Linked DNA regions of Homo sapiens: all the other regions are linked to region 3. Evidence: fine-mapped expression QTL. A gene starts in region 3. Each other region holds a variant in brackets. All regions are shown on one strand. Distances are from middle to middle.

What was found. PIP is the estimated chance that this variant, and not a neighbour inherited with it, causes the effect. A credible set is the group of variants that fine-mapping cannot tell apart.
Region 1: its variant is the best candidate, but not a certain one, in a credible set for the expression of SLC6A16 in minor salivary gland (GTEx, PIP 0.77).
Region 2: its variant is the best candidate, but not a certain one, in a credible set for the expression of SLC6A16 in neutrophils (BLUEPRINT, PIP 0.60).

The regions. Positions count from the first base shown.
Region 1 is chr19:48,775,905-48,786,183 of GRCh38, reverse strand. No RefSeq gene overlaps it. Among named protein-coding and RNA genes, the nearest start is that of FGF21, 26 kb to the right of the region's middle. RefSeq lists a cis regulatory region at 4,756-5,396. The variant G/C (reference allele first, on the strand shown) is at 4,512.
Region 2 is chr19:49,340,123-49,350,401 of GRCh38, reverse strand. TEAD2 (TEA domain transcription factor 2) reads left to right here. Exons shown (of 13, transcript NM_001256660.2): 9 at 1,557-1,699; 10 at 3,039-3,212; 11 at 7,004-7,171; 12 at 7,812-7,964; 13 at 8,965-9,807. The coding sequence ends at 9,078. It overlaps CD37 (CD37 molecule), which reads right to left. Exons shown (of 8, transcript NM_001774.3): 8 at 9,796-10,151. The coding sequence ends at 10,074. It also overlaps a transcript of SLC6A16 not described here. Among named protein-coding and RNA genes, the nearest start is that of CD37, 9.9 kb to the right of the region's middle. RefSeq lists enhancers at 7,214-7,313, 9,963-10,279. The variant A/G (reference allele first, on the strand shown) is at 2,606.
Region 3 is chr19:49,319,572-49,329,850 of GRCh38, reverse strand. It overlaps SLC6A16 (solute carrier family 6 member 16), which reads left to right and starts at 4,660. Exons shown (of 12, transcript NM_014037.3): 1 at 4,660-4,803. RefSeq lists a silencer at 2,402-2,553 and an enhancer at 3,347-3,496.

The sequences.
Region 1 (10,279 bases), 540 kb after region 3:
AGCCAGGCTTGGTGGCAGGTGTCTGTAATCCCAGCTATTTGAGAGGCTGAGGCGAGAGATTCGCTTGATCCCAGGAGGCAGAGTTTGCAGTGAGCCAAGATGACACCACTGCACTCCAGCCTGAGTTAGACTCCATCTCAAAAAAGAAGAAAACAAAACAAAACAGAAACACTGGCTTAGGCATTTATGAAAAACCCACAGCAAACATCCTACTCAATGGTGAAAGACTGACAATACACAAAAGAAAGAAAGAAATTCGTAACAGACATAAATGGAAAGACATCCCAAGTTTATAGACTGGAAGACAATAGTATTAAGATGACGATGCAGCTGGGCACGGTAGCTCATGCCTATAATCCCAGCATTTTGGGAGGCTGAGGCAGGAGGATTGCTGGAGCCCAGGAGTTTAAGATCAGCCTTGGCAACTGATATGGTTTGGCTCTGTGTCCCCACTGAAATCTCATTATGAATTATAATCTCAGCGGGTCCAGGGAGGGACATGGTGGGAGGTAACTGGATCGTGGGGGCAGTTTCCCCCATGCTGTTCTCGTAGTCATGAGTGAGTTCGCACAAGATCTGATGGTTTGAAACTGTGGTGGTTCCCTCCTCTAGCTCTTTCTCCCTCCTGCCACTATATAAGACGTGCCTTGCTTCCCCTTCCCCTTTTGCTATGATTGTAAGTCTCCTGAGGACTCCCCAGCCCTGTGGAACTGTGAGTCAATTAAACCTCTTTTCTTTATAAATTACCCAGTCTCGGGTAGTTAGTTTTAACAGCATGCACCTGGTCTCTACAACAACAACAACAAAAACTTAGCTGGGTATGGTGGCACCTGCCTGCAGTCCCAACTACTGAGAAGGCTGAGGTGGGAGGATTGCTTGAGCACGAGGTCGAGGTTGCAGTGAGCCATGGGGTCGTGCCACCACACTCCAGCCTGGGCAACACAGTAAGGGCCTGTCTCAAAAAAAAAAAAAAAAAGTGATCTAGTAACTGAATTTAATCCATATCAAAATTTGAACATCTGGCTGGGCGGGGTGGCTCACAACTGTAAATCCCAGCACTTTGGGAGGCTGAGGTGGGCGGATCACCTGAGGTCAGGAGTTCAAGACCAGCCTGGCCGACATGATGAAACCCCGTCTCTACTAAAAATACAAAAATTAGCCAGGCATGATGATGCCTGTAATTCCAGCTACTTGGGAGGCTGAGGCATGAGAATCACTTGAACCCGGGAGGTGGACGTAGCAGTGAGCTGAGATCGCACCACTGCACTCTAGCCTGGGTGACAGAGAGAGACTCCATCTCAAACAAACAAACAAAACGTGCAGAATGCTAAAGACTAAGCAAATAAGTAATAGCTACCATGTCCAGAGGCTTCCTCTAAGCCCGCTAGAAGGCACTGCCCTACAGTATTTCTCTCGTTTCCACTTGTGCAGATAAGAATACTGAAATTCAGAAGTCTCCTGCCCCTGGTTACTCCAGTAGTAAGAGGTGGGGGAACTCAGGCTCTCTCTCTTCATTGCCCACATCCTGAACCACTGCTCATGTTATATGCCCATATTTTGCATGTAAATTCAAAAGATTTAGGCGTCAGGTCCCGATCCTTTAACCCCTGGTTACCAGTCCCTGTTCTAGTCCACCCCTCAGGAGGAGGCAGCTGGAGTATCTGAGGTCAGTCACACGTGCAGTCTGCCATGCTTACATGACCAACACTTGTTTAAAATTTTGTCCCCCGGACTGCGCACGGTGCCTCACGAATGTAATCCCAGCACTTTGAGAGGCCGAGGCGGGCAGATTCCTTGAGCCCAGGAGTTCGGGACTAGCCTGGGCAACATGGCAAAACCCCGTCTCTACTAAAAATACAAAAATTAGGCCCAGCATGGTGGTGGCTCACGCCTGTAATCCTAGAACTTTGGGAGGCCGAGGCAGGCGGATCACAAGGTCCAAGAGTTTGAGAACAGCCTGGCCAACATCATGAAACCCCATCTCTACTAAAAATACAAAAAGTAGCCCGGCATGGTGGCAGGTGCCTATAATCCCAGCTACCCAGGAGGCTGAGGCAGGAGAATCGCTTGAACCCAGGAGGCAGAGGTTGCAGTGAGCCGAGACTGCGCCATTGCTCTCCAGCCTGGGCAACAGGGCGAGACTCCGTCTCAAAAAAAACAAAAAACAAAAACCAAAAATTAGCCAGGCAGAGTGGCGGGCGCCTGTAGTTGCAGCTACTTGGGAGGCTGGAGCAGGAGAATCACTTGAACCCAGGAGGCGGAAGCTGCAATGAGCCGAGATCACGCCGCTGCACTCCAGCCTGGGTGACAGAGTAAGACTTCGTCTCAAAAATAAATAAATACATAAATAAATAAAAATTAAAAAATTAGCCAGGTGTGATGGCGTACCCTTGTAATCCCAGCTACTCGTGAGGCATGAGAATAGCTTGAACCTGGGAGGTTGAGTCTGCAGTGAGCCGAAATCATGACACTGCATTTCAGCCTGGGTGACAAAGCAAGACTCAAAAAAAAAAAAAAAATTTTTTTTTCATCCTAAGATCTGGGGTGAGACTCCCTGGTTGGCAATACTGCATGCGTTTTGGCACACGTCATTACCGGGAGAATTGAGCACTGTCTAGAACTCCACTGGGGGAGGACATCTGAAAGCTCACGCCTGGTGTCTCCTGGACTCTGCCCCATCCACGTTTTCCCTTGGCTGATGATGACGATGATGATGACGATGATGATGATGATGATTATTATTATTATTTTGAGACGGAGTCTCGCTCTGTCGCCCAGGCTGGAGTGCAGTGGTGCGATCTTGGCTCACTGCAACCTCCGCCTCCTGGGTTCATGCCATTCTCCTGCCTCAGCCTCCCGAGTAGCTGGGATTCCAGGCGTGTGCCACCACGCCCAGCTAATTTTTTGTATTTTTTAGTAGAGACAGGGTTTCACCATGTTGGTCAGCTGGTCTTGAACTCCTGACCTCAGGTGATCCACCTGCCTTGGACTCCCAAAGTGCTAGGATTACAGGCGTGAGCCACCACGCCCGGCGTACAGTTTAAATTTATAAACATAAAAGAATTTGGGGGCCAGGCGCGGTGGCTCACGCCTGTAATCCTAGCCCTTTGGGAGAACGAGGCGGGCAGATCGCTTGAGCTCAGAAGCTCGAGACCAGCCTGGGCAACATGGCAAAACCCCATTTCTACAAAAAATTTAAAAATTAGCTGAGCGTGGTAGCGAGTACCTGTAATCCCAGATACTCGGGAGGCTGAGGTGGGGGATCGCTTGAGTCCAGGAGTTCCAGGTTGCAGTGAGCAGAGATCGCGCCACTGCCCTCCATCCTGGGCGACAGAGTCAGACCTTGTTTCAATAAATAAATAAATAAATAAATAAATAAATAAATAAATAAATAAATAAATAAATAAGGTGAGGGGGGTATTTCTGAAATGACGTGGAAGCTCGGATTCTTTTTTCCAGAAGCCTCAGTTCAGAGTCTTTTCCAAGGGCCGGTTGCGGAGTTTGAGGATAGAGCACTAAGAGCACCCAATAGGAATGACTGAAAGCCCATGACGTCACTAGTGGCTGGGCAACAGCTCCAGAGTGCCTCTCGCTGACCTGCTTCGGGAAGTGGCCCCCGGTTCGCGTCACATGCCAGCCCCTGGCCTGCGTCACAGACCAGGATACACACCCAAATCCCAGGGGCCAGGAAATGTGTTCCCCGTGAAACCAAATTTAGCAAAGGAAAGAATGCAACAACTTTTAAACTCATTAAAGGCTCCCTGGCCGGGCGCGGTGGCTCACGCCTGTAATCCCAGCACTTTGGGAGGCCGAGGCGGGAGGATCACAGGGTCAGGAGATCGAGACCATCCTGGCTAACACGGTGAAAGCCCGTCTCTACTAAAAATACAAAAAATTAGCCGGGCGTGGTGGTGGGCGCCTGTAGTCCCCGCTACTCGGGAGGAGGGAGGCTGGGGCAGGAGAATGGCGTGAACCCGAGAGGCGGAGCTTGCAGTGAGTCGAGATCGCGCCACTGCACTCCAGCCTAGGCGACAGAGAGCTGTCTCAAAAAAAAAAAAAAATTGTGTTCCCCTTCCATGGATCTTATCTAGAAAAAAACACCTGTTTTTCTCAGGCTCACACTCAACACTTCTGTGACCAGGTGTGTGGGGTTTTTCCCACGCTGACAAATTCTCCTACCCAAGCTGGGTGTCCCACAATTCAATCCAACTCTGACATTATCTACCTGGAGATAGCATCGGATCCCACAGGTGAAAGGCTCAGTCCCACGAGGCTGCCCCTTGGGAGATGCCAATCACAAGTCCACGTGGTCTCACCCGAGCTTCTGACTTGCTAGTAATGGGGGTTCCCATGACTCCCTCCTTAGGCTCAGAAATTTGCTACAATGCCTCACAGAACTAAGGAAAACACATTTATCAGTTTATCATATAATTAAATAAAACCTGTCAGATAAAGAGGTGCAAAGGGCAACATCTGAACGCCTCCCGAGCACGGGAGCAAAGGATGGGTTT[G/C]GGGGAGCTTCCAGGTTGGGCGTCTCCATGGAGTTGGGGTGCTTCCCCGCCCGGAACTGTGGGCAGAGAGCCACCCAGGTGCTGAGGCAAGAGATTGAAGGCACATACTGTTTCAATATAATAAAGAAAATACTTAGAATAAGAAAAGTTATACTAGCAATAGGATATAGAGATGATTATATATGGATATTATCAATTATTAGTTTTAGTATTAATCTCTGTTTTATTATTATAACTGAGGAAAAACCAGGCGATACAGAGTCAGGAGCTGAAGGGACATGGTGAGATGTGACCAGAAGACAAGAGTGAAAGTCCTCCGCCACGCCCAGATAAGGGCTTAAGGACGCCTTGGTCTAGTGGTAGCACCAGTGCCTGGGAAGGCACCCGTTACTTAGCAGACCGGGAAAGGGAGTTTCCCCTTCCTTGGGGGAGTTAGAGAACACTCTGCCTCACCAGCCTCTTGTGGGAGGCCGGACATTAGCCAGGCCTGCCCACAGTCATCCGGAGGCTTAAACATCTCCCTGTGGTACTGTGCTTCAGTGGTCATGATCCTTGTCCACTTTCATGTTCCGCCTGTACACCTGGTTCCTCTTTTAAGTTCCTGGGAGATAGCAGTAGCAGAAATAGTGAAAATATTAAAGTCTTTGATCTCTCTGATAAGTACATAGAAAAAATGCTGACCGTATGCTGTCTTCCCTCTCTGCTTCGTCTACCAAAAAGGGAAAGGCCCCCTGTCACATGGACACGTGACTTGCTTGACCTTATTAATCATTTGAGATGACTCACACTCCTTACCCTGCCCCCTTGCCTTGTATACAATAAATAGCAGCAGTCCAGGCATTCGAGGCCACTAATGGACTCCATGCACTGGTGGTAGTGGCCCCCTGGGCCCAGCTGTCTTTCATACTCTCTCTTAGTTTCATGTCTTTCTTTCTACAATCTCTCATCTCCACACACGAAGAGAAAACCCACAAGGCCCTGTAGGGCTGGACGCTACAAGGAACCTCTCCCACCCCCATACTTTAGGGACTTTTATGGAGACTTCAGCGCATAAGTAGGATAGATTAGTAATTCCAGCTCCAGTTCCCTCTTCTTCCGGAAAGATGTGGAGTGGGATGGGGCTACAGGTTCCATGCTTCTAATATTGACTGAGTCTTGCTGGTGATCAGCCCCCATCAGGAGCCCACCAAGAGTCACCTCATTAGAAAAAAAGGTGCTCTCAGCTGGGTGTGGTGGCTCACGCCTGTAATCCCAGCACTTTGGGAGGCCAAGGGGGTAGATCACCTGAAGTCAGGAGTTCCAGACCAACCTTGCCAACATGGTGAAACCCCCGTCTCTACTAAAAATACAAAAATTAGCCAGGCATGGTGGCGGGCACCTGTAGTCCCAGCTACTTGGGAGGCTGAAGCAGGAGACTTGCTTGAACCCAGGAGGCAGAGGTTGCAGTGTGTGGAGATTGCACCACTGCACTCCAGCCTGGTGACAGAGCAAGACGCTGTCTCAAACAAAAAAAAAAAAAAAAAAAAAAAAAAAAAAGGGAAGAAGAAAATAAAAAGAAAAAAGAAAAAATGATGCTCCCATTACTCAGGAAATTCCAAGGGATTTAGGAGCCCTTTGTCGGGAACTGGGGTCAAAGATCAAATATTAGAACAAAAGATGCTGCTGGCATCCCTAACACTGGGGAAATTATAAGGGGTTTCAAAGCTCTGTCCCAGAAACTGGGGGGACAGAGACCAAATATATATTTGTTATTGTGTGACAGTGCCCCTGGGGGGATTATATCTCCCAGCACCCCTTGCAAGTCACTGGGGTTATGTGAGTGGTTCTGGCCAATGAGAAGAGCCCTGCCTCACTTCCAGCCACACCCATTAGGGAACTTCTAATGTGCCCTCTCTCTTTTCTCTACCTGCCGGTTGGATGCAGATAGCAGTGTAGTAGTCATCTATTGCTGTCTAACAAATTACCCCTGAGTTAATTCCTCACAGCTTAAACAACAAATATTTATTGTATCACATAGTTTTTTTTTTCCCTTCTCTCTCTCTCTTTTTTTTTTAGTAGCTGGGATTACAGGCACCTACCACCACACCTGGCTAATTTTTTTTTTTTTTTTGAGACGGAGTCTCGCTCTGTCACCAGGCTGGAGTGCAGTGGCATGATCTCTGCTCACTGCAAGCTCTGTCTCCTGGGTTCACGCCATTTTCCTGCCTCAGCCTCCCAAGTAGCTGGGACCACAGGCACCCACTGCCACACCTGGCTAATTTTTTGTATTTTTAGTAGAGATGGGGTTTCACCGTGTTAGCCAGGATGGTCTCGATCTCCTGACCTCGTGATCCACCTGCCTCGGCCTCCCAATTTTTGTATTTTTAGTAGAGATGGCCCTGAACTCCTGACCTCAAGTGGTCTGCCTGCCTCGGCCTCCCAAAGTTCTGGGATTACAGGTGTCAGCCATGGTGCCTGGCCTTCTCACATAGTTTCTGGAGGGTCAGGAATCCCAAGCAGCTCGGCTGGGTGTTCCTGGTTCAGGTTTCAGTCAAGCTTGTCAGCCAGGACTGCAGTCATGTGAAGGCTCGACAGAGGCTGGAGAACCCTCTTTTTTTTTTTCTCTCGAGACAGAGTCTCAGAGTCTCACTCTGTTGCCCAGGCTGGAGTGCAGTGGCACAGTCTCCACTCACTGAAACCTTTGCCTCCCAGGTTTAAGTGATTCTCCTGCGTCAGCCTCCCGAGTAGCTGGGATTACAGGCACGTGCCACCACACCCAGCTAATTTTTTGTATTTTTAAGTAGAGACGGGATTTCACCATGTTGGCCAGGCTGGTTCTCGAACACCTGGCTTCAAGTTATCCACTTGCTTTGGCCTCCCAAAATGCTGGTATTACAGGTGTGAGCCACTGAGCCTGGCCTATCCGAGCTCACTCACAGGGCTGTTGGCTGGAGGCCTTAGTTCCTCGCTGGCTGTTGATGTCTGCATGGGCTGCTTGGGCATTCCTCGTGTCTTGGCCACTAGCTTCTCCCAGAGCAAGTGATGAAAGAGAGAGTGAGAGAGAGACCACGATGGAAGCCGCAGTCTTTGTAGCCTAGTCTCAGATGTCATATCCCACCATTCCTTTTTTTTTTTTTTCTTGAGACAGGGTCCCCCTCTGTCATCAAGGCTGGAGTGCAGTGGTGCGGTCATGGCTCACTGGAGCCTCAACTTCCTAGGCTCAAGTGATACTCCTGCCTCAGCCTGCCAAGTAGCTGGGACCATGGGCACACGCCACCACACCCAGCCAATTAAAATTTTTTTTTAATTTTTTGAGACGGAGTTTTGCTCTTATTGCCCAGGCTGGAGTGCAATGGTGCGATCTCAACTCACCACAACCTCCACCTCCCGGGTTTAAGCGATTCTCCTGCCTCAGCCTCCCAAGTAGCTGGGATTACATCCCACTACGCCCGGCTAATTTTGTATTTTTTTAGTAGAGACAGAGTTTCTCCATGTTGGTCAGGCTGGTCTCGAACTCCCGACCTCAGGTGATCCGCCCACCTCTGCCTCCCAGAGTGCTGGGATTACAGGCATGAGCCACTGCGCCCGGCCTAATTTTTAAATTTTTTGTAGAGATGGGGGCCTCAGGCTGGTCTTGACCTCTTGGGCTCAAGTGATCCTCCTGCCTCAGCCTCCTAAAGTGCTGGGATTACAGGTGTGAGCGACTGCCTGGCCCATCCCACCACTTCTGCCCTGTGATATCCATCACAAAGGCCAACCCTAGTGTAATGTGGGAAAGGAATGCACATGGCATAGATACCAAGAGGTGGGGATCATTGCGGTTCACCTGGGAGCCTGCGTCCCACATCCAGAGAGACCTTGGAGGCCACGTGTGAAAATGGCAAAGCTGGCCGGGCGCAGTGGCTCACGCCTGTAATCCCAGCACTTTGGGAAGCCGAGGCGGGAGGATTACCTGAGGTCAGGAGTTCGAGATCAGCCTGGGCAACACGGTGAAACCCCGTCTCTACTAAAAATACAAAATTAGCCGGGCGTGGTGACACATGCCTGTAATCCCAGCTACTTGGGAGGCTGAGGCAGGAGAATCGCTTGAACCCGGGAGGCGGAGGATGCGGTGAGCCGAGATCGCGCCATTGCACTCCAGCCTGGGCAACAAGAGTAAATCTCCATCTCACCAAAAAAAATAGAAGAAGAAGAAGAAAAAAAAAAGAAAATGACAGAGCTGCTATCAGCCTGAGTCCTTGACCCTCTGTCTTTCTACTAGTTAGACTTTACATGAATAGAAACAAAAATCAACTGTAGGGCCAGGTGCAGTGGCTCACACCTGTAATCCCAGTGCTTTGGGAGGCCAAGGCAAGAGGGTTGCTTGAACCCAGGAGTTTGAGACTACTGGGCAACATAGTGAGACCCCATCTCTCTGTAAAAAAAAAAAAAAAAAAAATCAATTAGGCCAGGCACGGTGGCTCACGGCCACTCAGCACTTTGGGAGGCCGAGGCCGGCAAATCACGAGATCAGGAGTTCCAGACCAGCCTGGCCAACATGGTGAAACCCTGTGTCTACTAAAAATACAAAAAATTAGCTGGGCATAGTGGCAGGTGCCTGTAATCCCACCTACCCCGGAGACTGAGGCAGGAGAATCGCTTGAACCCGGGAGGCAGAGGTTGTAGTGATCGCACCACTGCATTCCAGCCCGGATGAAAGAGTGAGACTCCGTCTCAAAAAAAAAAAAAAAAAAACAATTGTTCAAACCACTGATATTTTAGTGTGGGTCCGTCCCAGTGTTTCACATTGCTATAACTAATTCAGAGATCAGTTACCAATGGGACAGCATGGGGAAGGTTAAACTGAACACGTAGCACTGTGTGACTTTACTGTGTACATATATAACTTTGATTAAAAAAGTAAATATGAAAAAGCGGGAATACAGAAAACCCATTCAATCCAAGTGAAGGAAGGAATAAAAAAATAAAAATAACCCACTGAATAAACTCCAGATGGATCAAAGTCTTCAGTATCAGATAGGAAACCATAACGAGTGAGAAGTAAGCATTGGAAAATTATTTTATAACATGGGCATGACCGTGACTCAAACTTCAGAGGCCAGAAAAGAAAACATTGATATGGTCAAATACATTAAATAGAAATCGGCATTCTTCCCCTTCCCTAAATTTGTCTTCCTGAACGATAAAGTTCTAAGGTTTGAGGTGGGGCAGGCAAGGCCAGCTTGGGGTGTTGGGGGCACAGTGGCCCAGAAGTGGGGTGTCAGGGCCTTAGTGGGGTGAAGGAGGCATTTACTGATGTGAGCAGCTCAGCACAGTGGGGGGCACCCAAGTAGGAAACGTAAGTCCCCTAGGCTAATAGGATGGGGGGCTGTAGCTCGGGAAGTCAGCCCAAGCTGGGTGCAGAGGGCACAGGGGAGGTGGAAGGAGGGGACAGCTGTGGAGATGAGAGATGGCTAACATAGAGGAGAATTGACCGATAAGGAAATTAAGAAAATGAAGTCATATTTCTCACTGTCAGAAAAGGCAGATATAAATATGGAAAGGGAGAGAACTAGAGGTATTGAATTTGTCTTTATTTATTTATTTTTTTGAGACAGAGTCTCACTCTGTTGTCCAGGCTGGAGTGAAGTGGCATAATCTTGGCTCACTGCAACCTCCACCTCCTGGATTCAAGCGATTCTCCTGCCTCAGCCACCCGAGTAGCTAGGATTAGAGGCCTCCAGCACCACACCCAGCTAATTTTTGTATTTTTAGTGGAGACAGCGTTTCACCATATCGGCCAGGTTGGT
Region 2 (10,279 bases), 21 kb before region 3:
GTTGCAGTGAGCCGAGGTGGCACCGTTGCACTCCAGACTGGGCGACAGAGCAAGACTCTGTCTCAAAATAAATAAATAAATAAAATAAAAAATAATAAGAAAAATGTATTGATTTATTGGTTCCAGTAACTGACAGTTCAGAATTATGGCCTCAGGCGTGGCTGGATCCAGCGGCTCAAGTGATGGCATCAGTCATTACTTTGATCTGCTTTCCACTGTGGTGGCTTCATTCCCAGGCAGACTCAGCTACTTGGCAGCAAAGATGGCTTCTGGAAGTCCATGCTGATATGGCCCTGAGAACTCACATCAGTGAAAGAGGGAGTCCCTTAGTTTCCATAGATTTATCAATTAGGAATACTTTTGGCTGCAAGTAACAGAAGACCCACATTAAAAGTGCCTTAAATAGTAAAAGCATTCATGTTATGAATCCATGCAACAAAAAGCCTGGAGGTGGGCTGTTCCCGTGTGGGCTTAGCAATATCAGGACTGGAATCTCTGTAGTTCCTCTCATGTCTGTCTTATTGTCCCAAGATGGCTGTTGCAACTCCAGGGATCATGTCTGTGTTGGTCCATTTGCATTGCTGTAAAGGAATGCCTGAAACTGGGTGATTTATAAAGAAAAGAGGTTTATTTGGTTCACAGTTCTGCAGGCTGTACAGGAAGCATGTTGCCAGCCTATGCTTCTGGTGAGGGCCTCAGGAAGCTTAGGACCATGGTGGAAGGGGAAGGGGAGCCACTATGTCACATGGTGAGAGGGAGCAAGAGAGCGAAGCCAGGCTCCTTTAAACAGCCAGCTCACATCAACTCAAAGAGTGAGAATTCACTTGTTACTATGGGGAAGGCACCAAGACATTCATGAGGGATCCACCCCCATGACCCAAGCACTTCCCATCAGGCCCCACCTCCAACCTTGGGGATCACACTTTTTTTTTTTTTTTTGAGACAGAGTCTCGCTCTGTCCCCCAGTCTGGAGTGCAGTGGCGCAATCTCGGCTCACTGCAACCCCCGCCTCCTGGGTTCAAGCCATTCTCCTGCCTCAGCCTCCTAAGTAGCTGGGATTACAGGCACGTGCCACCATGCCCAGCTAATATTTTGTATTTTTAGTAGAGACAGGGTTTCACCATGTTAGCCAGGACGGTCTCAATCTCCTGACCTTGTGATCCACCTGCGTTGGCCTCCCAAAGTGCTGGGATTACAGGTGTGAGCCACCGTGCCCAGCTGGGGATCACATTTCAACATGAGATTTGGAGGGGACAAATATCCAAACCATATCAATCTCCCAAGCAGGACTTGGCCAGGGCCAAAAGCTTTCTCCTCCCAAAGTTCTGTCTTTTTCATTCAGGAAGAAACTCCTTCCCAGAAGCCCCCCAGCAGATTTCCCCTAACGTCTCATTGGCTAGGACTGTGTCACATGGCCACTTCTAACTGCAAGGGAGGCTGGGAAAGTGAGTATTTAGCTTTTTCAGCTTCTAAGTGGAGGCAGGCAAGAGACAACAGTACCTGATATATTCCATAAATGTTAGCAATTTGTATTGTTCTTTCTTCTCTCTCTCTAGGGTACGAGCCCCCCCAAGCCCTCTCACCCCTGCCCCCACCTACCCCATCGCCCCCAGCCTGGCAGGCTCGGGGCCTGGGCACCGCCCGGTTGCAGCTGGTAGAGTTCTCAGCCTTCGTGGAACCGCCAGATGCAGTTGATTCTGTGAGTGAAATTTTGGTACAGTCGCTGAGGGATTTTGAAATATAGAGGGTGACAGGAAGGGAATGTATAAAGTCATGGTTTTAAAACTTTAGCATGTATCAGAATCATCTGAAGGGCTTCTTAAAACAGAGATTGCTTTCTGATTTGCTAGATGTGATGTGGGGCTTGAGAATTTGCATTTCTAATAAGCTACCAGGTGCGTTGATGCAGCTGGTCTGGGGACCGTACTTTGAGAACTACTAGCATAAAGGAACTGGAAGGTCATAGGGTGACAAGTTGGGAAGGTCAGAAAAGCTCCCCAGGACATCATTCATTCATTTATCAAACGTGTTTGAGTTTCTACTGTTCACTAGGCTTTGTGATGCATACTAGGAACTTGGAAAAGATTTTATTTCTGTGCTTGAGCTTCTCCTGGGCTAGGATGGAGTGGGCCGACTGTTAGAAGAAACAGCTCCTAACTCTTAGGGACTGAATGCCAGATAAGTTGCATGTAACATTTCAATGTAGGTTCAGCAGGAGCCTTGGACTCAAGTGATTTGGGGATCCAGGCTCCTTCCATTTTGTGGCTCTGCCATTTTCTAAGGCTTCAGAATCTGCTGATGGAGTCTCTGCATCTGGCCAGCAGATGGAGGAAGGGAGAGAGTCAAGATTGTGCAGGAGGTTTTAGGAATCTGACTTGGATGTGTCGACTCTCAGGCCTGGTCACATCCCATTGGCCAGAACTTAGTCATGTGGTCACACCTAACTGCAAAGCGGCCTGGGAAATGTAGTTTCACACTGTGTAAAGGAACCAGGATTTGTGAACACGTAGCAGTCTCTGCCACACCATATAAACATCAATCAAAACATCAACCACAAGACCTCTGTGGATTCCCATTCATTCACTCTTCCATCCATTGACCATTT[A/G]TGAGCACCTGTTCTATATAGGACCAGGCCTAGGGGGTGTGAGCTTTGCCCTGGGGCTGCTGGGGAGCTATGGGAGGGCCATGACCAGGGGAGGGTCAGGGGCAGGTCTGGAGCCACATGAGGGATGAACTGGAGAGGCGAGGTTGGAGGCTGGGGTGAGGGTGGGAGGCCTGAGGTGAGGCTGAGGCAGTGAGGATGGAGTTGGGGGAGTTGTGGCAGGGAGTTGGGGACTGTAGGACTGCAGGGCTGCAGGGGACTGGGTGCAGAAGCAGGAGTGGGGACGATGGGTGGCAGTCAGGCCCAGTGCTGGGTGGACTGTGTGGAACAGCTGGCCAGAGCTGTGGGGATGGTGACGGCATTTGGTGGGCTCAGGCAGCACAGGCTGGAGATCCAGCTCACCTCCGACTTCTCACCCACGGCCAACCCTCCTCAGTACCAGAGGCACCTGTTCGTGCACATCAGCCAGCACTGCCCCAGCCCCGGAGCGCCGCCGCTCGAGAGTGTGGACGTCCGGCAGATCTACGACAAATTCCCTGAGAAAAAGGGTGGCCTCCGAGAGCTATATGATCGTGGCCCCCCCCATGCCTTCTTCCTGGTCAAGTTCTGGGTGAGTTCTCACAGCAAAATCAAAAGTGCTCACAAATCCTGTGGTGTCCCAGCAAAGGCCTCTGGCCCTGAGAGAATCTGTCGCGGGCCCTACCAGGTCAGCCTGGGACTTACCAGTCAGTCCTCATGGCTTGGAGTGTCAGCCCCCTTTGCAACAAGGAACACCGAGGAGGCCAGCCCCCAGGGTGGGTTGGAGGTGTCTGGGCCTCCCTGGATCCCACTAGACATTGCCACATGTAACTAATACGGTGAGTTACCTGGCCATGTAGCTAATAGGGTCCTGGGCATGGGCTTGCCATGTTCCAGGCTTCCCTGTGCCCCACCTGACTGCACCAAGCCGTGCTGCTAAGGAAAGACCCCTCCCCGTAGCCAGTGGACTTGTGGAGACTGGTTTCTAAAGAGGGGACTGATGCTTTGCATCAGTTTCACCAGACCTTGTTGCTAGAGAATGTCTGGCTTTGAGGAAGTGATGAAAAGAGCCATGGAGTGGCTTTGCCAAGTCCTGTATTCATTTATTTGTTTATTTATTTATTTTTGAGACATAGTCTCACTGTCACCCAGGCTGGAGTGCAGTGGCTGTATCTTGGCTCACGGCAACCTCCGCCTCCTGGATTCAAGCGATTCTCCTGCCTCAGCCTCCCCAGTAGATTGGACTACAGGCACCCGCCACCACATCTGGCTAATTTTTGTATATTTAGTACAGACGGGGTTTCACCATGTTGGCCAGGCTGGTCTTGAACTCCTGGCCTCAAATGATCTGCCCACCTTGGCCTCCCAAAGTGCTGGGATTACAGGTGTGAGCCACCGCACCCGTCCAAGTCCTGTATTTATGTAGCAATCATTTATTGAGCACTTCCTATATAGACGCCTGGTGTCAGCTGCTATTTATATGATTGGGACTAAGAGGGCCCATCTTGCGTGTTTCTTAGGGCTACTTGGTTTGGTGTCCAGTATGATGACTAACACTACAGGGGTTCAATAAATGTGTTTTATTTTCTTTTATTGTTTTTTTTTTTTTTTTTTTTGAGATGGAATTTTGCTCTTGTTGCCCAGGCTGGAGTGCAATGGTGCGATCTCGGCTCACTGCAACCTCTGCCTCCTGGGTTCAAGCGATTCTCCAGCCTCAGCCTCCCAAGTAGCTGGGATTACAGGCATGCACGACCATGCCCAGCTAATTTTTGTATTTTTAGTAGAGACGGAGTTTCGTCATGTTGGCCAGGCTGATCTTGAACTCCTGACCTCATGTGATCCGCTCACCTTGGCCTCTCCAAGTGCTGGGATTACAGGCATGAGCCACTGCACCTGGCCTAATTTTTGTATTTTTAGTAGAGACAGGGTTTTACCATGTTGGCCAGTCTGGTCTCGAACTCCTGACCTCAAGTGATCCACCCACCTTGGCCTCCCAAAGTGCTGGGATTACAAGTGTGAGCCACAGTGCCTGGCCTGGGCTCAATAAATGTTGCCTGGATGTTTAGGGGGTGCTAGTTCTTATAGTAACAAAGGTGGTGGAGGGATCTAGTCTCTGAGAAGAAAGCCTGGCTAGGTGTGGTGGTTCACTCCTATCTTCCCAGCACTTTGGGAAGCTGAGGCGAGAGTTTCGCTTGTGTTCAAGAGTTTGACACCAGCCTGGGCAACACAGTGAGACCTCAACTCTACAAAAAATGAAAAAAATTAGCTGGGTGTGGTGGTGCGCACCTGTGGTCCTAGCTTCTGTGGAGGCTGAGGCAGGAGGATCACTTAAGCCTGGGAGGTGGAGGCTGCAGTGAGCCAAGATTGTGCCACTGCCCTCCAGCCTGGGTGACAGAATGAGACCCTGCCGAAAGAAAGAAAGGAAGAAAGGAAGAAGGAAAGAAAGGAAAGAAAAGAAAGAAGGAAAGAAAGAAGGAAGGAAGGAAGGAAAGGAAGGAAAGGCCTGCTGAGGGCCTGAACTTTACTGTTCTTGCTGGGAGTGTTGTTGTTCTGGAGCTTGCTGTTCACGGTTCTGGAGCTTTCTGCCATGTGAAGCAGAAGCCTGAAACTGCTCTGGGGATGTGCAGCTGAGGGCTTAGACATTGTTGGGGCTTAAGACAGGCCTTATCAGGTCCCAGGACTGGAGAGCCACCCCCTTAGGAAGCCCAGCTGCTGAAGGGGTTCAGAGGAGCAGCTGGTAAGGTCTTTGGTTTTGCCACGGTGAGAGATGGAGTCGGGCCCCTGAGAAGACGGACCTGGCACAGTGTTAGCAACTAAAGTTAGGAAGAGGAAGAGGTGCGCCTCGCAAGGAGGTGACTCAGACCAAAGGTGTGATGAGCTCTTAGGCTTCCTTAGGCCCCACTTGGCCTAGTGACACTTGGCCAGCTGTCTACACACACTTGGCCACTGGGGTCATGGAGGGAGTCTGACCTCTCAGATTTGGCCGAGGGGGAAGTGCTCTGAGGAGGAGTCAGGCCTCCTCAGGCTCCGTGAGGTCCCGTTGCTAGGGAGTAGCCACTTGCCTTAGCAACCAGAGTGAGAGGGGCTTAGAGGGAGGTATTCATCTTGAACTGGTTGCTAAGAAGTAACTGCCATAGTAACCAGGCCCTTGGAAGGGGCTGAACTCTTGAGTTGCGGGCTTCAAGGGAAAAAGGTTGAATTGGCTGGACACAGTGGCTCATGCCTGTAATCTCAGCACTTTGGGAGGCCTAGGTGGGTGGATCACCTGAGTTCAGGAGTTTGAGACCAACCTGGCCAACATGACAAAACCCTGTCTCTACTAAAAATACAAAAATTAGCCAGACATGGTGGCGTGCGCCTGTAATCCCAGCCACTTGGGAGGCTGAGGCAGGAGAATCGCTTGAACCCGGGAGGCAGAGGTTGCAGTGAGTCAAGATCGCGGCATTGCACTGGGCAACAAGAGCGAGACTTCATCTCAGAAAAAAAAAAAAGAAAAGAAAAAAGGTTGAAATTGAATTCCAGGGCTCCTTTGGTTACTGGGGAGACAGGGCCAAGACTGTTTTGGGGACCCAGACTTCTTCAACGCTGATGGACGGTGGATCTTCTCCAGAAACCAGCCCTTGGAGAACTTTGAAAGCCTGACGCGGTGGCTCATGCCTGTAATCCCAGCACTTTCGGAGGCCAAGGTGGGAGGATCGCTTGAGCCCAGGAGTTGGAGACCAGCCTGGGCAACATGGTGAAACCCTGTTTCTACAAAAAATACAAAATATTAGCTGGATGTGGTGGCATGCACCTGTGGTCCTAGCTACTCAGGAGGCTGAGATGGGAGGATCACTTGAGCTCAGGAGGTCGAGGCTGCAGTGAGCTGTGATTGTACCACCACACATTGCCTGGGTGACGGAGCAAGACCCTGTTCCCCCCCCCCCAAAAAAAAAGACAAACAAACAACAAAAAAACAAAACAACACTGAAGAATCAAGCCGGGAACTGCAGGGGTAATGGTAGGCTATGGGGCAGAGTCCCCACTGTGTTTTTTTTTTTTTTAAGATGGAGTTTCGCTCTCGTTGCTCAGGCTGGAGTGCAATGGTATGATCTCGGCTCACCGCAACCTCTGCCTCCCGGGTTCAAGTGATTCTCCTGCGTCAGTGTCCCAGTAGCTGGGATTACAAGCATGCACCACCACGCCCGGCTAATTTTGTATTTTTAGTAGAGATGGGGTTTCTCCATGTTGGTCAGGCTGGTCTTGAACTCCCAACCTCAGGTGATCCGCCCGCCTCGGCCTCCCAAAGTACTGGGATTACAGGTGTGAACCACTGCGCCTGGTAGTCCCCACTGTTTATAAGGGATGTCCCCTCTGACTCATCTGTGCCTTCCCATCTCCCAGGCGGACCTGAACTGGGGCCCAAGTGGTGAGGAGGCAGGGGCCGGTGGCAGCATCAGCAGTGGTGGCTTCTACGGAGTGAGCAGCCAGTATGAGAGCCTGGAACACATGACCCTCACCTGTTCCTCCAAGGTCTGCTCTTTTGGCAAGCAGGTGGTGGAGAAGGTGGAGGTGAGGCTGGAGGGGTGGAGCTCTGGGTCAGCACTTGGGGGTGCAGAATGGACCAGAAGCCATCATGACTCAGGCATTTGGGAGTATGCATGGAGGGAGTGGGTCCCAGCCTCTTTGAGGGTTTAATGCATGCGTTGGGAGCTAATGGGCAGTTCAGAAGTCACAGGCAGGGATCATTCTGCGGGCTGACAGGTAATGTGTAGTATAGAGACTTAGAGTCACTGAGATTGAGAAGGGTCTTATGGATATGGAGAGGTTCTTAGGGCAAGAAGGTTCAGAAGTCACACTTACAGTTGCTGGAGACTTGGGGAAGTCTCAAGTTTAGAAGTCAGAGTTTGAAGACGTCATGGAGGGGTCTTTGGAGGGTATCTGAGGGCTGGGAGGTTAGAGGAGTCCAGAGGTCTTTGGGGGTTCAGAGAATCACTTTGAGGGGCTTGTGATTTGCAGGCTCAGAGATCCTGATTCGGATCTCCGAGGGTTCAGGCCCAGTCTCCAGTCACTGTGGGTGGGGTGATGAAAGGAAGGTGGCAGTGAGAGTGAGTGTGGTGGCATCTTAGAGGCACAGGGTGGAGCTCAATTCCTGGGGTGACCCGTGGGTCTCTCAGCCACCATTTTCCCAACTCCCTTCCCCTTGGTTCAGACGGAACGGGCCCAGCTGGAGGACGGCAGATTTGTGTACCGCCTGCTGCGCTCGCCCATGTGCGAGTACCTGGTGAATTTCTTGCACAAGTTGCGGCAGCTGCCTGAGCGATACATGATGAACAGCGTCCTGGAAAACTTCACCATCCTCCAGGTGATGCCTGGGGCTGGGCTGGAGTGGGGCCCCCCAGTGTGGAGGGACAGTACCTATAACAGACCCTCAGTCTAGGGGATCTCCTCACCCAGGAACTGACACAGCAGGGACTCCAAAGTGAGCCCTCAGCCTGAGGCTCTTTTAACTAGGAAACTGATGCAGCGGGGACCCCACCATTGACCCTTAGTTTAGGGGACCCTTCACCCAGGGTGGGGATGTCACAGCACTCTCTCTCTTTTTTTTTTTGAGATGGAGTCTCGCTCTGTCGCCCAGGCTGGAGTGCAGTGGCAAGATCTCGGCTCACTGCAACCTCTGCCTCCCGGGTTCAAGTGATTCTCCTGCCTCAGCCTCCCGAGTAGCTGGGATTACAGGCACGCCCCACCACGCCTGGCTAATTTTTGTATTTTTAGTAGAGATGGGGTTTCACCATGTTGGCCAGGTTGGTCTTGATCTCCGACCTCAAGTGATCCACCTGCCTAGGCCTCCCAAAGTGCTGGGATTACAGGTGTGAGCCACCACGCCCAGCCCCACAGCACTCGCACATAAGGTGGGTCCCTCCTTCCCTGGTGAAGCTGACTGGAGGGCACTCGAAGGCAGATCCTCAGCTTGTCAAGGAACATGATATGGTGGGAGCCCCTTTAACTTTTTGGACTGCTGAGGCAGAGACCCCTTGACCGCGGAACCTGCAGGGAGGGTTCTCCCTTTACTTGTGACATGATGGGGACCCCTTTTACCCAGGGAATGTGATGTGATGGGAACCCGATTAACCCTGAGATGTGATACACCATAACTGCCAACGCTCAGCTGAGGGGTAACCCCCATTGCCCAGGGAACTGACTTTTGGGCATCCCTTTCTCCTGGGGAACATGATATGGTGGCGGCCTGTTTCCTGGAGATGGAAAAGAGCCTGCTGGGTATTCCATGATAGCTTGGCAGGGGGGCACAGGGGTCCCTGCCCTCCCTTCTAAGCATAAGTCCCTTGTCCTGGCCTTCCTGGCAGGTGGTGACAAACAGAGACACCCAGGAACTGCTGCTCTGCACCGCCTATGTCTTCGAGGTCTCCACCAGCGAGCGTGGGGCCCAGCATCACATTTACCGCCTGGTCAGGGACTGAAGGGGGACCCCAAAACTGGCTCACCCCCCAGAACACCCTCCTCCCAGGGAGGGTCCTCCAGCTCACCTCATGCTTCTTATTTGGGGAGAGGGCTGTGATGTAAAGGGGTTGACCTCAGAGGCCTAAGCAACTGGGGCCATCCCCCCCATTAGAGGGGCCCCCAAAACTTGGTTGGAGAGCTGAACAGGCTGGGACTGAGGAAAGGATAAACCCCGATATTGGGACCTCACAGTGGGTGTCTGAAAGGACAGATCACTCCGGAGTATCAGGGATTGTGGGGACAGGAGTGAGACAACCCCCCAGGTACAGCACTGGCTTTTCTTTTCAGCCCCTGACAGGCCACCCCCACTCCTCTGCATGTCTTGGAGAGCGCTAGTTACACATTGGCTTGTCCCCTTTACTTTTTCCCAGCCACCCCTCCCCCTGAAATTTCTGCCCCTCTCTACCACCCTCACTCCATGACCTGTGAGATCACAAAGTGAAGATGAACCCTTTCTGTGCAGGAGCAGAGCCAGGTGGGCCCTGGACATTTTTTTTTTTTTTAATATAACGAGATATTTATAAGTGGGTGCTAGGGTCTTGACTTTATCTCCGCTGCACAAGCAGTGTGTTGAACTTTCTAATCTCATCCCTCTCCTAAGTGAGCCCTGAGCTAGACGGTTTCCTTCCTCCCCTCTCAAAGTTTGTTTGTTTGTGTTCTGACAGAGGATAAAGCTATTTTACCAAAAACGCAGGGGATTTATTTGAGGTTTGGGTGAAAAATAATCTTGTGGGTGGTGGTAGGCCGACAGATGGGGACAGGAAGCTGTGGACGAAAGCCCCAGGTCCCGTGGGAGAGGTGACAGCAGCAGGGGCACGCAGCCACGTGGGTCCCCAGGGGAATGTGAAGGCGGAGGGCTCCAGGCGAACTGGGGATTAAACAAATATTTACAGGCAGCAGGGAAGTGCCCAGCGCACGTGACGGGGGCGGGGCGGGACTTTGGGGAGGGCGGGGCCTAACGGTATCGAGCGAGCCGGTTGTAGACGTGGTCCAGGTTTCTGCACAGGAATATCGAGAGCGTCATGAACCCGAGCTATAGAGAAAGGAGATGAGGTCAGAGAAGTCGAAGGGGTGCTGGCGAGACGGGGGTGATGCCCACCCGGGCGAGAAAGGTCAGGGGTGGGGCCGTGAATTGGGCGGGAAGGGGCTGGAGAAGGGGAT
Region 3 (10,279 bases):
CCATCCTGGCTAACACAGTGAAACCCCCGTCTCTACTAAAAATACAAAAAATTAGCCAGGCGTAGTGGCGGGCGCCTGTAGTCCCAGCTATTCGGGAGGCTGAGGCAGGAGAATGGTGTGAACCTGGGAGGCAGAGCTTGCAGTGAGTGGAGATCGCACCACTGCACTCCAGCCTGGGCGACAGAGCGAGACTAGACTGTCTCAAAAAAAAAAAAAAAAAAAAAAAAAGACAAGGCCTTGCTATGTTGCCCAGGCTAGTATCCTACTATCAAACTCCTAGCCTCAAGCAATCCTCCCACCTCGCCCTTGCAAAGTGCTGGGACTACAGGTGCAAGCCACCGCTCCCGGCTGAGTCATTCTTGATTCCTCTCTTTCTCTCAGACCCCAAACCTAATCACCATTAGTTTTCTAATGCTCTGTAACAAATTACCCCAAATTTAGCAGTTTAAAACAATAAACATTTCTTAGGCCAGGAGCGGTGGCTCACTGTAATCCCAGCACTTTGGGAGGCTGAGGCAGGCAGATTACGAGGTCAGGAGTTCGAGACCAGCCTGACCAACATAGTGAAACCCCGTCTCTACTAAAAATACAAAAATTAGCTGGATGTGGTCCCACCTGTAGTCCCAGCTACTCGGGAGGCTGAGGCAGGAGAATTGCTTGAACCTGGGAGGCGGAGGTTGTGGTGAGCTGAGATCGCACCACTGCACTGCAGCCTGGGCAACAGAGCAGGACTCTATCTCAAAAAAAAAACACAATAAACATTTCTTACCTACTGTAGTTTTTGTGGGTCAGGAATCTGGGAGCAGCTTAGTTGGATGATTTCTGCTCACAGTGTTTTATGAGGTTGCAGTCAAGATGTTGGCTGGGGCTGTAGTCATCTGGAGATTTAACTACGGCTGGAGGATCCACTTCACCATGGTTCACTCACCTGGTGCTGGTTGCTGGCAGGAAATTTCAGCTCTTCTCTTATATGGATCTCTTCACAGATTGCTTGAGTGTCCTCACCGTATGGTGACTGGCTTCCTTTACAGAAATCAGTTGAAGGGAATGGGCAAGTAAGAAACAGCAATGCTTTTTATGACCTAGTCCTGAAGTTCCCCACCATTACTTATGTTCATTGGAAGCCAGTTGCTAAGGAGAGCCTGCACTCAAAGATTGGGGAAATAGACTTTATCTTTCAAAGTGTTGAAGAATTTGCAGACGTATTTTAAAACCACCACACAATCCATCAACACATCATGTCGGCTCTATTCTTGAAATAGATCCAGAATTTGACCACTTTTCACCATCTCCATTGCTATTACCCAGATCTAATCAACACCATCACTTGCCTGGACTAGAGATTTCCTCCTCACTGGGCTCTCTGCTTCTATCTTTAGCCCATTGCTATGATTTGGCTGTGTCCCCACCCAAAATCTCATCTTGAATTATAATCTTCATAATCCCCATGTGTCAAAGGAGAGACCAGGTGGAGGTAACTGAATCATGGGGGTGGTTTCCCCAGGCTGTTTTTGTGATAGTGAGTGAGTTCTCATGAGATCTGATGGTTTTATAAGGGGCTCTTCCCTCCTTTGCTTGTGAAGAAGGTGCCTTTTTTCCCCTTTGCCTTCTGCCATGATTGTAAGTTTCCTGAGGCCTCCCCAGCCAAGCTGAACTGTGAGTCAATTAAACCTCTTTTCTTCGTAAATTACCCAGTCTTGAGCAGTTCTTTACAGCAGTGTGAAAACAGAGGAATACACCCATACATGCTATTCTCTGCCCAGAAGCCAGGGGGAGCCTGCCATTAAAATGAAAGTCACTCCTTGACTCAGAACCCTCAAATAGCTTTCATCTCACCCAGAAAAAAAAGAAAAAAATTCCGACCATGACCTATAAGGGCCTCCAAATAATACTCTGGCCCCTGCCACTGCTCTGATCTGATCTGTTGCTACCCTTTCCTCAATCACTGGGATCCATTCATATCAGACTCTTTGCCATTTCCAGAACCCATCAAGTGTACTTCTTGCCTCAAGGCTTTTGCTGTTGCCATTTTCTTTGCCTGGAATGTTCTTCCCTATGCTGTTCACAAGGCTCCCTTCCTTCAGCTCTCTGCTGAAATATCACTTTCCCCAAGAGTCCTTCTTGACTACCCTGTCTAAAGTAACTCCCTATCAGCACTCTTACTCTCTGAAATTCTTTCTATTTAGGCATTTACTTTCTTTGTGCAACTGGAACGTAAAATCTTTTTCATAACTATATCCCAGGGGTCTAGGACAGTGTGGGGCACATCATTCAATAAATATTTATTGACCGACTGAGACTTTTCCTGGTGCCTTGAACACACAGTTTGCCCTGCCTCAGGGCCTTTGCACAGCCTCAAGGCTTGAGATGTTCACACACATTTTTCACCTAGCAAATAATCCTTTAAGCCTCAACTCCAGTGTTATTTCCTTAGAGAAATCCTCCTTCTAAATTAGGTCTATGGGCCGGGCGCAGTGGCTCACGCCTGTAATCCCAGCACTTTGGGAGGCTGAGGCGGGCGGATCACCTGAGGTCAGGAGTTCAAGACCAGCCTGGCCAACATGGCAGGCTGACTCTACTAAACCCTGACTCTACTAAAAATATGAAAATTAACCAGGCGTAATGGCAGGCACCTGCAACCCCAGCTACTCGGAAGGCTGAGGCAGGGAGAATTGCTTGAACCCGGGAGGCAGAGGTTGCAGTGAGCCGAGATTATGCCACTGCACTTCAGCCTGGGTGACAAAGTGAGATTGTCTCAAAAAAAAAAAAAATTCGATAGAAATAAATAGGTCTGTGGCCCTTTTCTGTCGCAGCACTTTTTTTTTTTTCCTTGAGACAGGGTCTTACCCCATCACCCAGGCTGGAGTGTAGTAGTGTGATCTTGGCTTACTGCAACTTCTGCCTCATGGTTTTAAGTGATTCTTGTGCCTCAGCCACCCGAGTAGCTGGGATTACAGGCGTGCACCACCACACCTGGCTCGTTTTTGTATTTTTAGTAGAGATGGGGTTTCACCATGTTGGCCAGGCTGGTCTTGAACTCCTGGCCTCATGTGATCCGCCCACCTTGGCCTCCCAAAGTGCTGGGATTACAGGCGTGAGCCACCATGCCCGGCCTGTCATAGCACTTAATACAATTTATAATCATGTAATTATTTGAGATTCATCATATATCTGTTTTCTTGTTGTGTGAAGCAAAACGAGGGCAGGAATGGGGTCTGTTTTGTTCTCTACACTATTCCCAGTTCCTAGCATTTAGTAGACTCTCGATAAATACGTGTTGAAAGATTGAATGATTCCCAAAGATTGTGATGAATTCTTACAGCACCCCCAAAATTTCCTCTTCATCTCTTTGTTCAATCATAACAATTTAAGCCTTTCATTCTCAAAGTGTGGCTCAGGGACTCCTGGGGGCTCTTGAAACACTTTTGGGGGTCCATGAGGTGAACATTATTTTCATAATACTACTAAGATATTATTTGCCTTTCACTTTCATTTCCTCTTTGAATATAGTGATGTTTGCCAGAAGCTACAAGACATGAGCTATTTTGACACACTCAGTGCAGAAGCAGATATGAGAATCCAGCTGTCTTCTATGAAGCCAGACATTAGAGAGATTTGCAAAAATGTAAAATGATGCCATTCTTCTCCCCAAATTTTTTCTTTTTTTTCCTTTTTTTTTTTGAGACGGAGTCTTGCTCTGTTGTCTAGGCTGGAGTGCAGTGGCAAAATCTCGGCTCATTGCAACCTCTGCCTCCTGGGTTCCAACGATTCTCCTGCCTCAGGCTCCCGAGTAGCTGGGATTACAGGTGTGTGCCACCACGCCCGGCTAATTTTTTTTTTTTTTGACTTTTAGTAGAGACGGGGTTTCATCATGTTGGCCAAGCTAGTCTCGAACTCCTGACCTCGTGATCCACCCGCCTTGGCCTCCCAAAGTGCTGGGATTACAGGCGTCAGCCACCGCGCCCAGCGCCAAAATTTCTTTTGGAGTAGAAATTATAGTTATTTTAAATAAAAATGTTATTTTGACACATAATGAATTTTTAAACAATGACTATTTTAGAAATTTATTTTAATATTGATAGATACAACTCACATAAACATACAACCCATATAAATGTAACTCATAAATTATTGGAGTCCTTAATAATTCTTAAGAGACCGGAAAGTATGAGAACGGATGACCTAAGTAAATCTTTGAGTTTTTAATTCTTGTCTGCAGCCCTAGTAGGCTTCTGAGCTCTCTTAAGGCAACGTCCCTGTCTGCCTTGTTGGACGCATATTTAAGGTTTGGTTTCTAGTAGGCGATCTTTAAGTAAATGCGAAAGGTTTGAAGGCTAGAAGGAATGAATGAGACGATTCTCCCACTTCCTACCCTCTTCTTCCTTACATGAAGTGGAAGCAAAGTGCATGTGCCAGAGAAAGGCCTTGTCTTAGAGCCCCGCCTGAAGCGTGGCATCGTGGGTGTCGGGGTGGGGTGCGGTGGGGAAGGGAGTGGCGCGTGAGCAGTCAGAGGATGTGCACACGTGCGTGCGTGTGGGGAGAGAGCAGGGAGTTGGGGAGGGCGAAGTGGTTACAGTGTTTGCTACAGCTGTAGGGAAAGAGTGAGGGGGCGCGGCGGCGCATGCGCAGAGAATCGGCGGGAAAGGCCGCGCGCCAGGCAGATCGAGGGGTGTCGCCCAAACCGATCTGTCGACGCCTGAAGGGGCCTGAGGAGATTGCTAGGCTTCTCAGCTGGGGCTTCTTCACCCTCATTTTTGTCCGACTGGCTGGACTGAAGAACCTGGCAGAAGCCTTGGGGCTAGGGTGAGGGTCACGGCCCAGGGAGCCCTAAAATGTTCCCACATCTGGGGTGTGTGGGGCTGGGCGCCATTTTCGAGGCCCGGGCCCACTGGGCTCCACTGACGGGTGACAGGTGACTGGCTGGGAGCCTCCTGGTTGCCCTGGGCTCTGTGGAGCTGAGGGATCAAAGGGGTCCCTCCTTTACCCCCCACGTAGGACAGAGGAAACTGTCTTCGGCTCTCCTCACTCATCCAGTCCGAGTTTGAGCCAATTCCTTGACAGGATTCGGCCATCAGTCCCTGCCTTTGGGGAAAGCCATCAGTGTCAAGTGCCCGAGTGGCAGAAACCCGGGTCTAGCCCCATCACTGGTCTGTTAGGGCAGTTATTTTCTGCTTTTTGCAGAAATGGGACACCAGCTCCTTATTTTCCTTTTCTGGAGGTTATAGTTCCAGGGAAGGAGGTAATGTGAGGGGAATGGGCATTTCTGGGGGATCCTGAGCACTCCCCACAGGGCATGAGCCTAGGAGTTGCTTGGGATGACGGTGTAGGGGCACCATGGAGGGTTGCACCCATATGGGAAGAGGAGTCCGCCTGGGGCTCAAGGGGCTTTATGGATGTTGGAAGTGGCCAGCTGGCCAAAACTCAGTTCTCTCCCTTCCGTAAAGCTTGCTTTTAAGGACAACTGTTCTAGAATGTGTTTAAGAAACATGAATCTATTATTTTTTATTTATTTATTTATTTGAGATGGAGTCCCACTCTGTCACCCAGGCTGGAGTGCAGTGGCACGATCTCAGCTCACTGCAACCTCTGCTTCCCAGGTTCAAGCGATTCTCCTGCCTCAGCCTCCCAAGTAGCTGGGACTATAGGCGTGCGCCACCACCCCCAGCTAATTTTTTGTATTTTTAGTAGAAACGGGGTTTCACTGTGTTGGCCTGGCTGGTCTCGAGCTCCTGACCTCAGCCGATCCACCCGCCTCAGCTTCCTAAAGTGCTGAGATTACAGGTGTGAACCCCCGTGCCCAGCCTATTATTATTATTTTTAAGAGACAGGGTCTCTCTCTGTCTCCCAGGCTGGAGTCCAGTGGCATGATCACCTCTCACTACAGCCTCGAACTTCTGGGCTCAAGCAATCCTTCCACCTCAGCCTTTCAAAGAGCTGGGATTACAGGCTGAGCCACTGGAGGCTTGGTTTTCACTTATTTTGGGTGTATACCCAGAAGTGGAATTGCTGGATCATATGGTAATTCTATTTTTAAGTTTTTGAGGAACCACCATAGTGTTTTCCATGGTGGTTGCACCATTTTACATTCTGACCAGCAAGGCACAAGGATTCCAATTTCTCCACATCCTCACCAACACTTCTTATTTTCTGCCTTTTTATATTAGCCATCCTAATGGATGCGAGGTATTATCTCATTGTAGTTTTCATTTGCATTTCCTTAATGATTAGTGACGTTGAACATCTTTTCATGTACTTCTTGGAGATTGGTATATCTTCCTTGGAGAAATGTCTATTTAAGTCTTTTGCCCATTTTTGAATTGTGTTGTTTGTTTCTTTGTTGTTGAGTTTTACGAGTTCTCTATATATTCTGAATATTAATCTCTTATTATACATATGATTTTCAGATATTTCCTCCCATTCTGTGGGTTATCTTTTCACCCCTTTGATAGTGTCTCTTGATGCACAAATTTAAAACATTTTAATGAAATCCTGTTTGTTTCTTCTTTTGTTGCTTTTGCCTTTGGTATCATATCCAAGAATTCATTGCAGATCCACTATCATGAAGCTTTTGTCGTATGTTTTATTCTAAGAATTTTATAATTTTAAGTGTTACATTTAGGTCTTTGATTTATTTTGTGTATTTGTATGTGGTGTTAGGTAAGAGTCCATCTTTACTCTTTTGCCTGTACATAATCCAGTTTTCCCAGCACCATTTGTTGAAAAGACTGTCCTTTACTCATTGAGTAGTCTTGGCACCCTTGTAAAAAATCATTTTTCCATACATTGTTTCTGGGCCCTCTATTCTGTTCCCTTGGTCTGTATCTTTATGTGAGTAACACACTATTTTGATTACTATAGCTTTGTAATATGTTTTGAAATCAGGAAATGTGAGTACACCAGCGTTTTTCTTCTTTTTCAAGATTATTTTGGCTGTTCAGGGTCCCTTGAGATTTCATGTTAGTTTTAGGACGTGTTTTTCTATTTCTGCAAAAAAAAAAAAAAAAAAAAAAAAAAAAAAAAAAAAAAAAAAAAAGCTACTAATTCTGTAGATTGCTTTGGGTAATACTGACATCTTAACAGTGTTGTCTTCCAACCCATGAACATGGGATATTTTTCCATTTATTTATGTCTCCTTTAATTTTTTTCAGCAATGTTTTGTAGTTTTCTTTGTACATGTCTTTCACCTTCTTGGTTAATTCTTTTTTTTTTTTTTTTTGAGATGGAGTTTCACTCTTGTTGCCCAGGTTGGAGTGCAATGGTGCAATCTCGGCTCACTGCAACCTCTGCCTCCCAGGTTCAAGTGATTCTCCTGCCTCAGCCTCCTGAGTAGCTGGGATTACAGGCATGTGCCACCATGCCTGGGTAACTTGGTAATGGAAACGGGTTTTCTCCATGTTCGTCAGGCTGGTCTCGAACTCCTGACCTCAGGTGATCTGCCCACTTTGGCCTCCCAAAGTGCTGGGATTACAGGCTTGAGCCACCGTGCCCAGCCAAGTTAATTCTTAAGTATTTTATTCTTTCTGATGCTATTACAAATGGAATTGTTTTCATAATTTTCTTTTCAGATTGTTCATTGTTAGTGTATAAAAATGCAACTGAGTTTTGATTGTTGACTTTGTATCCTGCTACTTTGCTGAATTCATTTATTAGCTCAAAAATTTTTTTGGTGAAAATTTTAGGATTTTCTACGTATAAGATCATATAATCTTTCTAGTTTGGTTTCCTTTTATTTATTTATATTTTTGCCTAATTTCTCTGGCTAGGACTTCCAGTACTATGTTGAATAAAAGTGGCAAAATTAGACATTCTACGCTTGTTTCTAATCTTAGAGGAAAAGCTTACAGTCTTTTATCATTAAGTATGACATTTGCTGTGAGTTTTTCGTATATGGCTATTATGTTGGGATATTTTCCTTTTTTTTTTTTTGCTGAGACATGGTGTCACTTTGTGACCCAGGCTGGAGTGTAGTGGTGTCATCATGGCTCACTGTAGCGTTGACCTCCTGGGCTGAAGTGATTCTCCCATCTCAGCCTCATGAGTAGCTAGGACTACAGAAGTACATCAACACACCCAGGTAATTAAAAATTTTGTTTGTTTGTTTGTTTGTTTGTTTTTGAGATGGAGTCTTGCTCTGTCACCCAGGCTGGAGTGCAGTGGTATGATCTTGGCTCACTGCAACCTCTGCCTCCCAGGTTCAAGCGATTCTCCAGCCTTAGCCTCCCAAGTAGCTGGGACTACAGGTGCACACCACCACATCTGACTAATTTTTGTATTTTTAGTAGAGATCAGGTTTCACCATGTTAGCCAGGCTGGTCTTGAACTCCTGACCTCAGGTGATCCACCCGCCTTGGCCTCCCAAAGTGCTGGGATTACAGATGTGAGCCACTGCACCTGGCCCCAGGCTGGTCTTGAACTCCTGGGTTCAAGTGGTCATCAGGCCTCCCAAAGTGTTGGGATTACAGGCATGAGTCACCATGCCCAGCCGTATTTTCCTTTAACTCCTAGATTGTTGAGTTTTTTTTTTTTTTTTTATCATGAAAGGGTATTGAGTTTTGTCAAATGTTTTTTCTGCATCAGTTGAGAGAATCATTATTTTTCTTTCATTTTGTTAATGTGGTATATTATATTGATTGATTTTTGTATGCAGAACCATCCTTGCATTCCAGGAATAAATCCCACTTGGTCATGGTATATAATCCTTTTAATATGCTGCTGAATTAGGTTTGGTAGTATTTTTTTTGAGGATTTTTGCATCAAAGTTCATAATGAATATAGGTCTGTAGTGTTCTTTTCTTATAATGTCTTTGTATGGCTCTGGTATTAGGGCAATGTTGGCCTTATAGGATGAATGAGGAAGTGTTCCCTCCTCTCCAATTTTTTGGAAAAGTTTGAGAAGGATTGATATTAATTCATTAAAGGTTTAGTAGAATTCACCCATGAAGCCATCAGGTCCAGAGCTTTTCTTTGTTGAGAGATTTTTGATTACCAATTCAATCTCCTTACTAGTTATAGATCTATTCAGATTTTCTGTTTGTGATTTAGTCTTAGTAGATTTGTATTTCTAGGAATTTGTCCATTTAATCTAGGTTATCCAGTTTATTGGTGTACAGTTGTTCATAAGTTCATAGTACTCTCTTATAATCCTTCTATTTCTGTAGAATTGGTAATAATGTCCCCATTTTCATTTCTGGTTTTAATCATTTGAGTCTTCTCTTTTTTTCTTAGTACATCTAGTTAAAGGTTTGTCAATTTTGTTGATATTTTTAAAGAAACAACTTTTGGCTTCTCTATTGTTTTTCTATTCTCTATTCATTTCTGCTTTAATTTTTATTATTTTCTTCTGCTAGCTTTGGGTTTAGTTTGCTTTTCTAGTTTCTTAAGTTTTAGAGTTAGGTTATTGATTCAAGATCTGGTTTTTTTTTGTTTGTTTGTTTGTTTGTTTTTAGAGGGAGTCTTGCTCTGTTGCCCAGGCTGGAGTGCAGTGGTGTGATCTCGGCTCACTGCAACCTCCGCCTCCTAGGTTCAAGCGATTCTCCTGCCTCAGCCTCCTGAGTAGCTGGGATTACAGGCGCCCACCACCATGCCTAGCTAATTTTTGTATTTTAATAGAGATGGGGTTTCACTATGTAGGTCAAGCTGGTCTTGAACTCCTGACCTCAAATGATCCACCCACCTCAGCCTCCCAAAGTGCTGGGATTACAGGCGTGAGCCACTGCATCCGGCCTCTTTTTTGTTTTTTAATGTAACCATTGATAGTTATAAATTTCCCCCTTGGCATTGCTTTTGTTGCCTCCCATAAATTTTAGTATGTGTGTTTTCGTTTTCATTTATCTGTAAGTATTTTCTAACTCCCCTTGTAGTTTATTCTTTGATCCATTGGTTGTTTAAGAGTGTGTTGTTTAATTTCTACAAATTTGTAAAATTTTCAATTTTACTTTTGTGATTCATTTCTAACTTCATCCTATTGTGGCTGGAGAAGATATTTTGTATGATATTTATCATTCTAATTCTATTGAGAAAAAAAGGAAATTTGTGGCCTACAAATTTGTGGTCTCTCCTGGAAAATGTCCCATGTGCACTTGAGAAGAATGTGTATTCTGCTGCTGTTGGCTAGAGTGTTCTGAATACATCTGTTAGATCTGGTTGGTTTATTGTGTTAAGTCCTCTATTTCCTTGCTTATCTTCTGTCTGCTGCTTCTGTCCATTGTTCGTAGTGGGGTATTAAAGTCTCCAGTTATTATTGTAGAACTGTCCTTTTATCCTTTCAATTATGTGAGTC